3 linked regions of the Homo sapiens genome follow. The protein of the gene in region 1 purifies or fractionates together with the protein of each later gene. This does not show direct contact. Each region holds a gene or a part of one and is shown on either strand. Other genes may lie near its edges.

Region 1 (3,831 bases):
GCTGCTGCTGCTCTGGGTCATCCTCTGCTGGGCCTGCCATTCTCGCTCTGCCGACGTTGACTCTCTCTCTGAATCCAGTCCCAACTCCAGCCCTGGCCCCTGTCCTGAGAAGGCCCCACCACCCCAGAAGCCCAGCCATGAAGGCAGCTACCTGCTGCAGCCCTGAAGGCCCCTGGCCTAGCCTGGAGCCCAGGACCTAAGTCCACCTCACCTAGAGCCTGGAATTAGGATCCCAGAGTTCAGCCAGCCTGGGGTCCAGAACTCAAGAGTCCGCCTGCTTGGAGCTGGACCCAGCGGCCCAGAGTCTAGCCAGCTTGGCTCCAATAGGAGCTCAGTGGCCCTAAGGAGATGGGCCTGGGGTGGGGGCTTATGAGTTGGTGCTAGAGCCAGGGCCATCTGGACTATGCTCCATCCCAAGGGCCAAGGGTCAGGGGCCGGGTCCACTCTTTCCCTAGGCTGAGCACCTCTAGGCCCTCTAGGCTGGGGAAGCAAACTGGAACCCATGGCAATAATAGGAGGGTGTCCAGGCTGGGCCCCTCCCCTGGTCCTCCCAGTGTTTGCTGGATAATAAATGGAACTATGGCTCTACCCTGAGGTTTTCTTCTCTTCCTGAGGGCCCTGTGGTAGCACAATTAAAGGTGTGGGGTGGGTTTCTACACAGGTTTATTTGTGCAAAGTTAGAGGGGTAATGGTGGTTGAAGACCAAGTCCTGGGGTAAGGTGCTGGGACCTTAAGGAACAGAACAAGAAGGGAAGATGCTGGGACCTGATCAGGAGTGGGGTCACATGCTGGGTGCTAAGGCTGGGCTGGGTACCAGGGTCAAGCCCTAGGAGTACTGTATTCAAGCGATGGGACAGAGACTGAGGCCAGCCCCTCAGGTCTTGATTTTCACTTCCCTCACCAGGTTCAGCAGTTTGTCCAGTTTCGCAATCTCCACAGCTGGACCCTTCTGCACCTCCTGCCCCTTCTTTTCCTGGGGAGAGGGAAAGTATACATGAGGGAGGAATGGTGGGCCCCCCCTCTCTGGGTCCCAGCACCACCTCCTCTGCCCAGCCTGTCCAGCTGTGCCCTACCCCTCCCCTGCCCAGTAAATTCTGGATCCCTGCCTCCCCTCTCCCTGACACGATCATTCCCCAACTCGGGTTAGGTGACACAGGGGCTCAGCTGACAGCTTGCAAAAAGGAGTCCAGCTCTGGCTTGAACCTCAGATGGACATGGGGTCTTGATGCTTGTGGGAGTGGGAAAAGGCATCCATTCCCTGACCCTCAGGGGAACAACCTTCCAGGCCAGGGAAATCCAGCTCTGCGAAGGCGGGGGGCTGACTGCTGGCACCATCCTTACCATGGGAAGGTCCCTGGCCGAGACCTATCAAGGAGCTAATGGGTATGTGTTTGGGGAGGGAGGGGCTGTGGACAGAGCCTCAGGGGCCCGGACCTCACCTAGTCCTCTCACCTGATGCCTTCAGGTCAGGTTGGCAGTGGGTGCTATTTGGGGCGAGACCTGCTGTGTCAGACATACCCAGGGTTGGGAAGAGTGTCAAGAGACCCATAAGGGCAGAGGGAATAGTCCATGTGACTCCAGGTGTCGTTGGCTGAGGTTGTCCTTTAGAAGACCAGATCCTGAGTTTATGACCCAACACCCTACCTGCAAAGCACTCCAATCCTTCCATTATAAGTTGGACACTGGAGTGTGTGTCACCCACAGGTCCTGAGAACTCCTTGGCAGACCAGCACCAGTCCCACCCTCCCTGCTGTCCAGGCAGGGGGGTGAGGGCTGTGCTGGGGCAGGCTGGGCAGTTGCCATTTCCCCATTTCCTGCCTTCGCTGTGCTCCTGGGCCCCCATCCTCTCAGCCACCTGTGCCCACTGCTCACTGACACCTACCCCAGCCTTACCTTGGTCTGGCCAGGGCTGTAAAGGGGATGGGGAGGGGTGAGTGCAGGGCCAGTAGGCCCTTCCCTGGCTCCTTTTTGGCTGCTGTCACCATGTGGAGCTCAGATTTCCCCCTGCTGTGACCCCATACCTGCTCCCAAATTTTCTCCCCTATCCGCTTGCAGCCCAGTGCCTTTTTGCCACTACCTAGCTCACCTCTACCCTCTGCAGGCAGAGCACAAAAAAGCTCTTTTTCTCTCTCTTCCCTCTCTCCTTCCTAAATTAAGCTTGGGTTCTCTTCTTGGCTTCACCCCATCCCCTGGGAGTTAGGGGACCTGGTTTTAGTTCCAGCTCTGTCATTAACTCCCTATATGACTTTGGGCAAGGCCTTTGCCTTTCTGAGCTTCAGTTTCCCATCTATCCTGTAGTTAGGGAAAGACAGTCTTTGGCCTTGGACTCTTTGGGCTCTTGACACCCATCATGGGAGCTCCCTGGGCAGGGAGGTCCAGACCTCTGTGGGGAAGCCATTTGGAAAGGGCAGGGAGTCTGCAGCTCACAGAGGAAGGGCAGTAGGGATGCCCAGAGGATTTTGTTTTGCATGAATCACTTGGCTGATAGGGTCAGATGGCAATTTCACGGGAACCTCTAATCCACTCAAGTACCCACCAGCCCCCACCTGTCCCTTCTCAGGTCCTCAGAGACGTAGGTCCCCAGATACACACAGCCCAGCTCTCCCAGCCATGACTGACCCTTCTCTGAGGGGAACTGAAACTATGGGAGATGCTTACCTCCCTGGATCAGAGTGGGCAGGGCAGGCTCCCACCCATGTCTGACCCTTCTCTGAGGGGAACTGAAACTATGGGAGATGCTTACCTCCCTGGATCAGAGTGGGCAGGGCAGGCTCCCACCCATGTCTGACCCTTCTCTGAGGGGAACTGAAACTATGGGAGATGCTTACCTCCCTGGATCAGAGTGGGCAGGGCAGGCTCCCACCCATGTCTACCACCCTCATGGTGTCATGGCTGTACTCCTCCCCCAAAGAATGACCATCATCCCTCCTGGAGGGTTGTCCAACTCTGCCAGCTTCAACCTGGGTCTCTCTCCTCAGAAAATTAAGAACACATTTTATCTATTCCACAAATTATGCTTCCTCCTTCCTCCTCCTTGAGGCCAACTAGCTGGGCTCAGCAAAGAGATTCAGACCACGCCCGACTCCCTCCCTCCCCTCAAGCCCACCACAGCCTCTGGGCCACAGCTGCAGGCGCTTAGCAGCCTTTTGAGTATTTATAGCCAAGTCCACCCTCTCCCCCAGCTGGCTACAATTACAGGGCCAGCCACACTCCCAGCCCTTGCCTCCCTGGCCATGGTGGGGAACAGGCCAAGCCAGCACCAGAGGGATGGTGCCGCAGTCCCTTCCTTGGTAGGAGCACAGTGCAGGGAAGACAGTAGTCGAAAGACACAGGCCCCTGCCACTGCCTCAAACTGCAGTAAATGCCTCAAATTGCCAGGAGGGATGGTCATTAGGGCAAGCTGGCCCAGTCCTGATCCTGGCCCAGAACCTGGCAGAAAGCAAAGAGCCATCTCTACTCTTAGCACACAAATGGGCAGGACTGGGCTCTGGGTTCTTGGGCTCAGGATTCCAAGGCCCGGGCTGCAAAGCCTGGGTTCATAAGTCTGGATCTGGACTCAGATCTAGACTTTAAGGTCATCGCTCTGGGCTCCAGACCTGTATTTGGGGCCCTTGGCCTCTGGGCAGGGTCTCCTGATCATTGGAGACCCTAGAAACAGGAACCAGAGCTCAGAAGGAGGGCTGCATAGCTGCTGACCTAGTTACTCTCCTTGCGGCTCATTTCCTTCCTCTCTGTGTAGACCCACAGCTCCCAGCTCAGGGACCACTGGGGCTGAAGCCCTGTGAAAGCCCAGTCAATGAGGCAGTGGCTCAGCCCCAGGCCCCCTGCCTG
Region 2 (3,229 bases), on another chromosome or scaffold:
CATAACATAAGAGAGGCCAGAATGACTTCTAAATTGACATTAGTCAAAAAAATTAAAAATCCTTCCCAATGTTGACCTAGGGATTTTATAGCTCTGTACATAAGGAAACAGGAAAAAAAAAATTGGGGGAGCGGGGAGGTTAATCCAGATCAGCAATTTTGTATTATCTTTGAGGAACAGGTGGGTAAATAAGACTCCGAAGGCCCTGTTGAGTCAGGTTATAAACTGCTGACAACAGGGATACAAGAGGAAACTGGGACAGAGAAAATCTGAGGACTGAGCTCCCTAATTCCCAAGAGCAAGAACCTGATTGTCCTAGGGGAGCTCAGTTCCCAGAAAATCCTACGGAGAGTCAACACAAAGGTATATAAAAAGCTTCACAACAGGAAGATACCAATACCAGACAACTGTTGCCTACTCACTACCCACCCAGGCTGCGCTGGGGCAGACTATATATCCTAACATTCTGGCATGAAGTAGTTCTGACAAGTGAGGAAAGCATGGTTGCGGGTGCGGATAGACAATAGGGCAGCAGGGATTCACTGTTCTAGTTTTCCTTTGGAGTTCAAATGTGTGTGATTTCAAAACAAAAATCCAGAAGGAAACATGAGATTAATGCATTTATTCCAAGTAATTAACACATTAAAAATAAAGTTAAACTTGTCCAAGCCAACTCATAAATTCTTTAATCTTTTTAACAAAATATACAACCCCAAACATCGTACTATGGTTGAAATTAATTGGGAAAGGAGGAGGTAGAGGAAAGGATACATATGGGTTTGTGGAACAGGGAATGAGTTCAATCTCAAGACAAGTTTCAGAGATCTTCTACCCCTTCACAACACAAATGGCTGCTAAACAATTTAATACAAAGTGTTATTGGATCACAATACAATGAACAAAGGCCATTTCAAAAATAAAAGTGATCTCAAAAGCATATCTGCTCCTGGCAATGAACCATGAATAAGCCTTACCGATTTGTCGTCTTCTAAAAGTAAGCCTGCCAGATATTCTTCCATGTTTATTTCCAAACAGGTTTGTGGGTTAGCAGGACAATGCATCTCAAGAAAGGCAACAGAGTAAGGGAAGTACAGGAGTTGACATGCCAATAAGGGGTGTAAACAGTAAACAAAAGAGCTACTCACGCTGCATTTCAAACAATGTTAAGGCAGGCCCATCCAAATGGAAGCCTAAGAGATGAACAATTCTTCCAAGTTTTCCATTTCAGCAAGCTTTCTGGTGTTTTTCCCAGAGATGCATCAACTGCCCAGGAAATTGGGTAGGAATACAACACAGCAACTGGAGAGGTCAGCTGCCTCCATCCTCCCCCACATTTCAGAAATGGCAGAGTCAAAGCCAAAATACAATCAAAGCACACTATGTGGTGAGCCAGTTAGACATGTGATTTTAATGACAAAGTGGGAGAAAATAAATTGGCCAAAAAAATTAACAAAATACATTTTTACAGATATATATATATATATATAAGTTGTTATCGATTTGTCTGGTGTTTTAAGGGGAAAGGGAAAAGGAAAGGAGGTAAATTTTTTAGCTTCCATGAACATTTACTTTAAGATGCTGACTGCATCTCTTGGTGTAGGTTCCAGATGAGATAACAAACTAGTCTTGGATCATCTGGGCATCTGATTTCTAGAAGCCAATGATTCACTCACAAGTAGCTCTAGGTATTTATTCTTAGTTGTGAACACTGGATTCTGTGTGGTCCTGGATGGCACCAACTGTAGTTTCCTGTTCAGGCATTCCCTGAGGGACCATATTGTCTTCAATTACCTGCTCCCTTGGAGGGGACCTTGACACTGGAGCTTTAACCAAATTCAGAGGGTCGCCACTGTCATCATCTACTTGCAGAATTGCCACCTCTGTGGTGGATGCATTCGATATTTCTAGCTGTAATGGCCCCAACTCCAGGGAACTACATTTAGAAGGGTCACCTGGCTCAGAGAGTGGAGAACACAGTTTATCTTTTTGAACTCCAGAGGTCCGTGTGACAAAGTCAACAAGGTCTGGAAGGCAAGGAGATGGCCCAAGGCCTGCAGAATTAATTGTTTTTAATTCCAATCCGAGTGACTCTTGTTTGTCTAATTGGGAAGATTCTTTTACTTCCTCAGGCATCATTCCTCCTGCTAACAGGTCAAGGGCCTGGTGTGTTCCCTCTAGGCCCCCCAAGCCACGGTCAACATTTTCTGTAAGTCCAGTTTTCAAAATGTTAGGAGAAGGGATCCTAACACTCCTGGGATTAGGTGAGTTTCGTTCACCCTCTGTCTCAAAGTCAAGCACCAAGGTTTTGGGAGAATCTAACGGAAACCCAGAAAAAGATGGGATTGGTTCGAAGTCAGCGGGATCGGAGGAATTACACCCTATAGGTGATACAGAATTTTCTTCACACACTTTCTGACACAAGACAGTTGGGGATCTATGTGCTGGGCTTACCCGAGTAGTGCAGAAATCAACAGGCATATCCCCCAGATTCCCCAGGGCAGTAAGCTCCTCTACCTTTAAGTCTGTAGCTTCAAAGTCTTCTAGGGCCTTGCTTTCTATTGTCACTGTTAACTCTGGATGGACATCTTGTAGCTCCAGTGCTTCTGTTTTTGGTTTCTCTGGGCTCTCCCAGGTCTCTGGCCTCTTCTTGTTTTCATCCCAAACAGCCAACTCATAGATCTTTTTAACTTGAAAGTCTTTTGATCTTTCTCTCTTGAGTTTGAGACTTCTGTACCTAGAAGTTCTAGAAGCTGATTCTGGAGCTGAATTCTCTAGCCCCTCCTCACTAACAACTGAAACTCCTTGCTCTTGTGGACTACCTGTTAAACACATAGCTGATCTGGCTGGGGAATGAAGCAGCAACTCTGGGGCAGAAATTTTCACAGGTGTATCTTGTGGGTTGAGTAAAGACCTAGCTTCTGATAAAAATGAGTCTAATTTTGCCTTTGTGAAAGAGCAAGCCTGTGGACTCAATTTGATCACTACTTTACTTGGAGTTTCACTTCCTGTCATCAATTTATTGGACTGTTCAGCCTCTTTGTCAATCATTAGCAAGTTGGGCTGTTTTACTTCTCCCTCCCACATGTATCTGTTTCCATGGTTCAAATTAGAATCATCTATGCTGTGGGGTCCAATGCTGGTACTTACTCCCTCATCAACTATCCCCTCAGACAGCTCCTTTACCCTTTCTTTTAGTTCAGTGTTTGTCTCTATCTCACTTTCTCTACAA
Region 3 (2,985 bases), on another chromosome or scaffold:
GGTGCGAAGGCTTACGCCTGTGATCCCAGCACTTTGGGAGGCTGAGGCGGGTGGATCACCTGAGGTCAGGAGTTCGAGACCAGCCTGACCAACATGGCAAAACCCGGCCTCTACTAAAAATACAAAAATTAGCCGGGCGTGGTGGCGGGCGCCTGTAATCCCAACTACCAGGGAGGCTGAGGCAGGAGAATCACTTGAACCCAGGAGGTAGAGGTTGCAGTGAGCCAAGATTGTGCCACTGTACTCCAGCCTGGACAACAAGAGCAAAACTCTGTCTCAAAAAAAAAGAAAAAAGCCAGACTTGGTGGCTCATGCCTATAATCCCAGCACTTTGGGAGGCCGAGGCGGGTGGATCGCTTCAGGTCAGGAGTTTGAGACCAGCTTGGCCAACATGGTGAAACCCCATCTCTACTAAAAATACAAAATTAGCTGGGTGTGGTGGCACACGCTTGTAATCCCAGCTACTTGGGAGGCTGAGGCAGGAGAATCACTTGAACCCAGGAGGCAGAGGTTGCATGAGCCCAGATCGCCACTGCACTCCAGATTGGGTGACAAGAGTGAAACCCCATCTCAAAAAAAAATTTTTTTTTTTTTTTTTTTTTCGCAGAATGAGGTCTCACTGCATTGCCCAGGCTGGTCTCAGACTTCTGGGCTCAAGTGGTCCCCCTGCCTTGGCCTCTCAAAGTGCTGGGATTACATGTGTAAACCACCATGCCTGGCCAAAGACTTACTTTTACAAGAGGAGTATAAAACATCTCATTAATAATTTTCATAATTGATTATGTGTTGAAATAATATTTTTGATATTTTGTGCCAAATAAAACAGTACTAAAATGAAGCTCACCTATATCCTTCTACATTTTCACTGTGGCTACTAGAAAATTTTAAATTACATCTGTGGCTCTCATTACATTTCTATTGGCCAGCACTGGGCTGGGTGAGATGACTAGGGGCAGAAAGTACATTCTGAGGGCCAGACAATCAAGGTGATTGATAGTGGGGTTAGGTTAACTGAAGGGTAGAAAAGGCCAGGTTAATAGGAGGCAGGGACTGAGTAACCGGGAACAAAGTTATTAGAGCATGAGAGAGAGATTCTGGGGTATTATAGGGAGGAAGGAGGCTGTGCTACAAGGGCCAAGAGACAGGAGGATGTACTCAAATTGGCCTGGATGAAGGGACGACCCTCTGCGACTTGGGTGGGGATAAGGGTGGCAGGTTGGGGCCAGCCCTGCACTCACCGCTTCTGCTCCCTGGAAGGAAAAAGAGACAGTGTCACTTGGTACCTCCACCTCAGGGACGCAGTCAAGACACCCTGCCAGGCCAGCCTCTGCCTGACCCCCAGCTCACCTCTCTTCTTCCAGCTTCTTCCGCAGGAGGTCCCGCCTCCAGGCGGGCATGCTGGCCAGCCGGGCCTCCTCCTCCTCCTCCTGAAACACAACCACAAAGCTTCAGGGCCTGCAGGGGCTGGGAGATAGGGGGCACCCTCAACCTCGGGACCTGAAGGAGTCAGGGTCACAGGAAGACATCCTTTTGATGCACATCTGTGTGACAAGTGGATGGAGGTGCCTGGTCACACCCCCTCAGAGCTGGCCTCCTTTCCCCTAGTAACCCAGACCCTCATGTCCTACAGGAGGCACCAGAGAGATCAGAGCTGAATGGGACAGAAGCAGAGAACAAGTAGCTGGGACCCAGAGGTCCTGAGCCTGATTCCCCGCAGAGGCAGGTGGCCAATGGCCACAGGCCCAAGACCTCTGGGCAGACGCAGATGCCAGCCAGCCCCCACCCAGCCTCTTGGCTCAGGGAGACTCAGGCTGCCCCTGGCTCCCCTGTGAAGGACCTTCACCCCATGGTTGCCATCTTCCCAATAGAGTGGATACGGGCACTACAATCGTGGGGCTACAATGACATCAGGGGCAGGTGTGGTGTCCAACGCAGGCAGTTTACAGCAAAGAGTTTTATTTCCTGAATGTTACAGAGGAGAACGGGTCTGTACACGGCACACTTCACACAGAACACTGCACACGTGGCACCCTTGACCTCAGCCAAGGAGGTAGCTGTGAACTCCAGTGGAAAACCAAAGAGCAGGCCACACTGCCGCAAGGAGGAGCCGCAGCCCCTCACTCAGAGGGGCTTCTTCTGCTGCCTGGCTCCACACAGAGCTCAGCAAGGCCACGGGGCCAGAGGCGGACACCTGGTCTGTTCTGTGCCTGCCCTGCCTATCCGACCAACGCCCCACAGCCCGCCACGATGGGACCTCAGAGGCTGAGGCAGCCTGGTCCTGGGCCCTCCGGGCTGCTCAAGGCCACAGTCCTGGGCTCTTCCTGCTGCTTCCAGCCTCTGGAGGGCGTCAGACAGGCGTCCAGGCCCACGTTAAGACGCTCGAGGGTGAACTGAGAATTCCGAATTCCGCTGCTCAGATGTCAAACAGCTCTGCCTCCTTCTCTTTCCAGAAGGAGAAGCTGCGGTCGATGTAGCGGCAGATGTCCTCGTTGCTGAACTCGCCCATCTCAGACACCAGTTCCAAGGGGTCTTCGGCGGGGGCTTCGGAACCAGGAGAGTCTGAGGTCGGGGGAGGCGCGGCGGGCGGGGGCGGCGGCGGCGGCTGCGGCGCAGGGGCCAGGGCCTCGGGCTGCCCCTCAGGCGGGTCCCCCGTCTGAAATGGAGCAGCCTCTTCGGTCCGCTCCTGTTCTTTCCCCTCCTCTTCCTTTTCCTTCGCCTGTTCTTCGGGGGCCGGCTCAGCCTCCAGGCCGTTTCCGAAGAACCGGTGCCTGAGGTCCTCGAAGCCGTCGCTCCAGCCGCGCCGGCCGGCCTCCACCTCCTCCAGCACCACGCGGTGGAAGAGGCGGATGCGCTCCCACGGGTGGCTGCCCAGTCGGTCGAACATCTCGTAGCACAGTAGGTGGCGGAACTTGCGCTCCTCGCGGCTCAGGCCCATCTCGAGTAGCTGGAAGTAGCCGAGCATGAAGAGGTCGAGCGTGAGGCTGT

The links.
Region 2: the proteins of DNAI1 (region 1) and ZNF318 purify together in Homo sapiens (affinity purification with mass spectrometry; one large-scale study listed by BioGRID and IntAct). This does not show direct contact.
Region 3: the proteins of DNAI1 (region 1) and ESPN purify together in Homo sapiens (affinity purification with mass spectrometry; one large-scale study listed by BioGRID and IntAct). This does not show direct contact.

Annotation. Positions count from the first base shown.
Region 1 is NC_000009.12:34,517,800-34,521,630, reverse strand, and holds the end of DNAI1 (dynein axonemal intermediate chain 1), read right to left. Parts: intron 974-3,831; coding exon 875-973; 3' UTR 647-874; downstream 1-646. Other genes in the region: ENHO (adropin precursor), read left to right, coding at 1-166.
Region 2 is NC_000006.12:43,335,463-43,338,691, forward strand, and holds the end of ZNF318 (zinc finger protein 318), read right to left. Parts: coding exon 1,696-3,229; 3' UTR 608-1,695; downstream 1-607.
Region 3 is NC_000001.11:6,455,626-6,458,610, reverse strand, and holds part of ESPN (espin), read right to left. Parts: coding exon of another isoform or gene 2,414-2,985; exon of another isoform or gene 1,940-2,413; intron 1,428-1,939; coding exon 1,348-1,427; intron 1,251-1,347; coding exon 1,239-1,250; intron 1-1,238. UniProt on the Homo sapiens protein: Multifunctional actin-bundling protein. Plays a major role in regulating the organization, dimension, dynamics and signaling capacities of the actin filament-rich microvilli in the mechanosensory and chemosensory cells.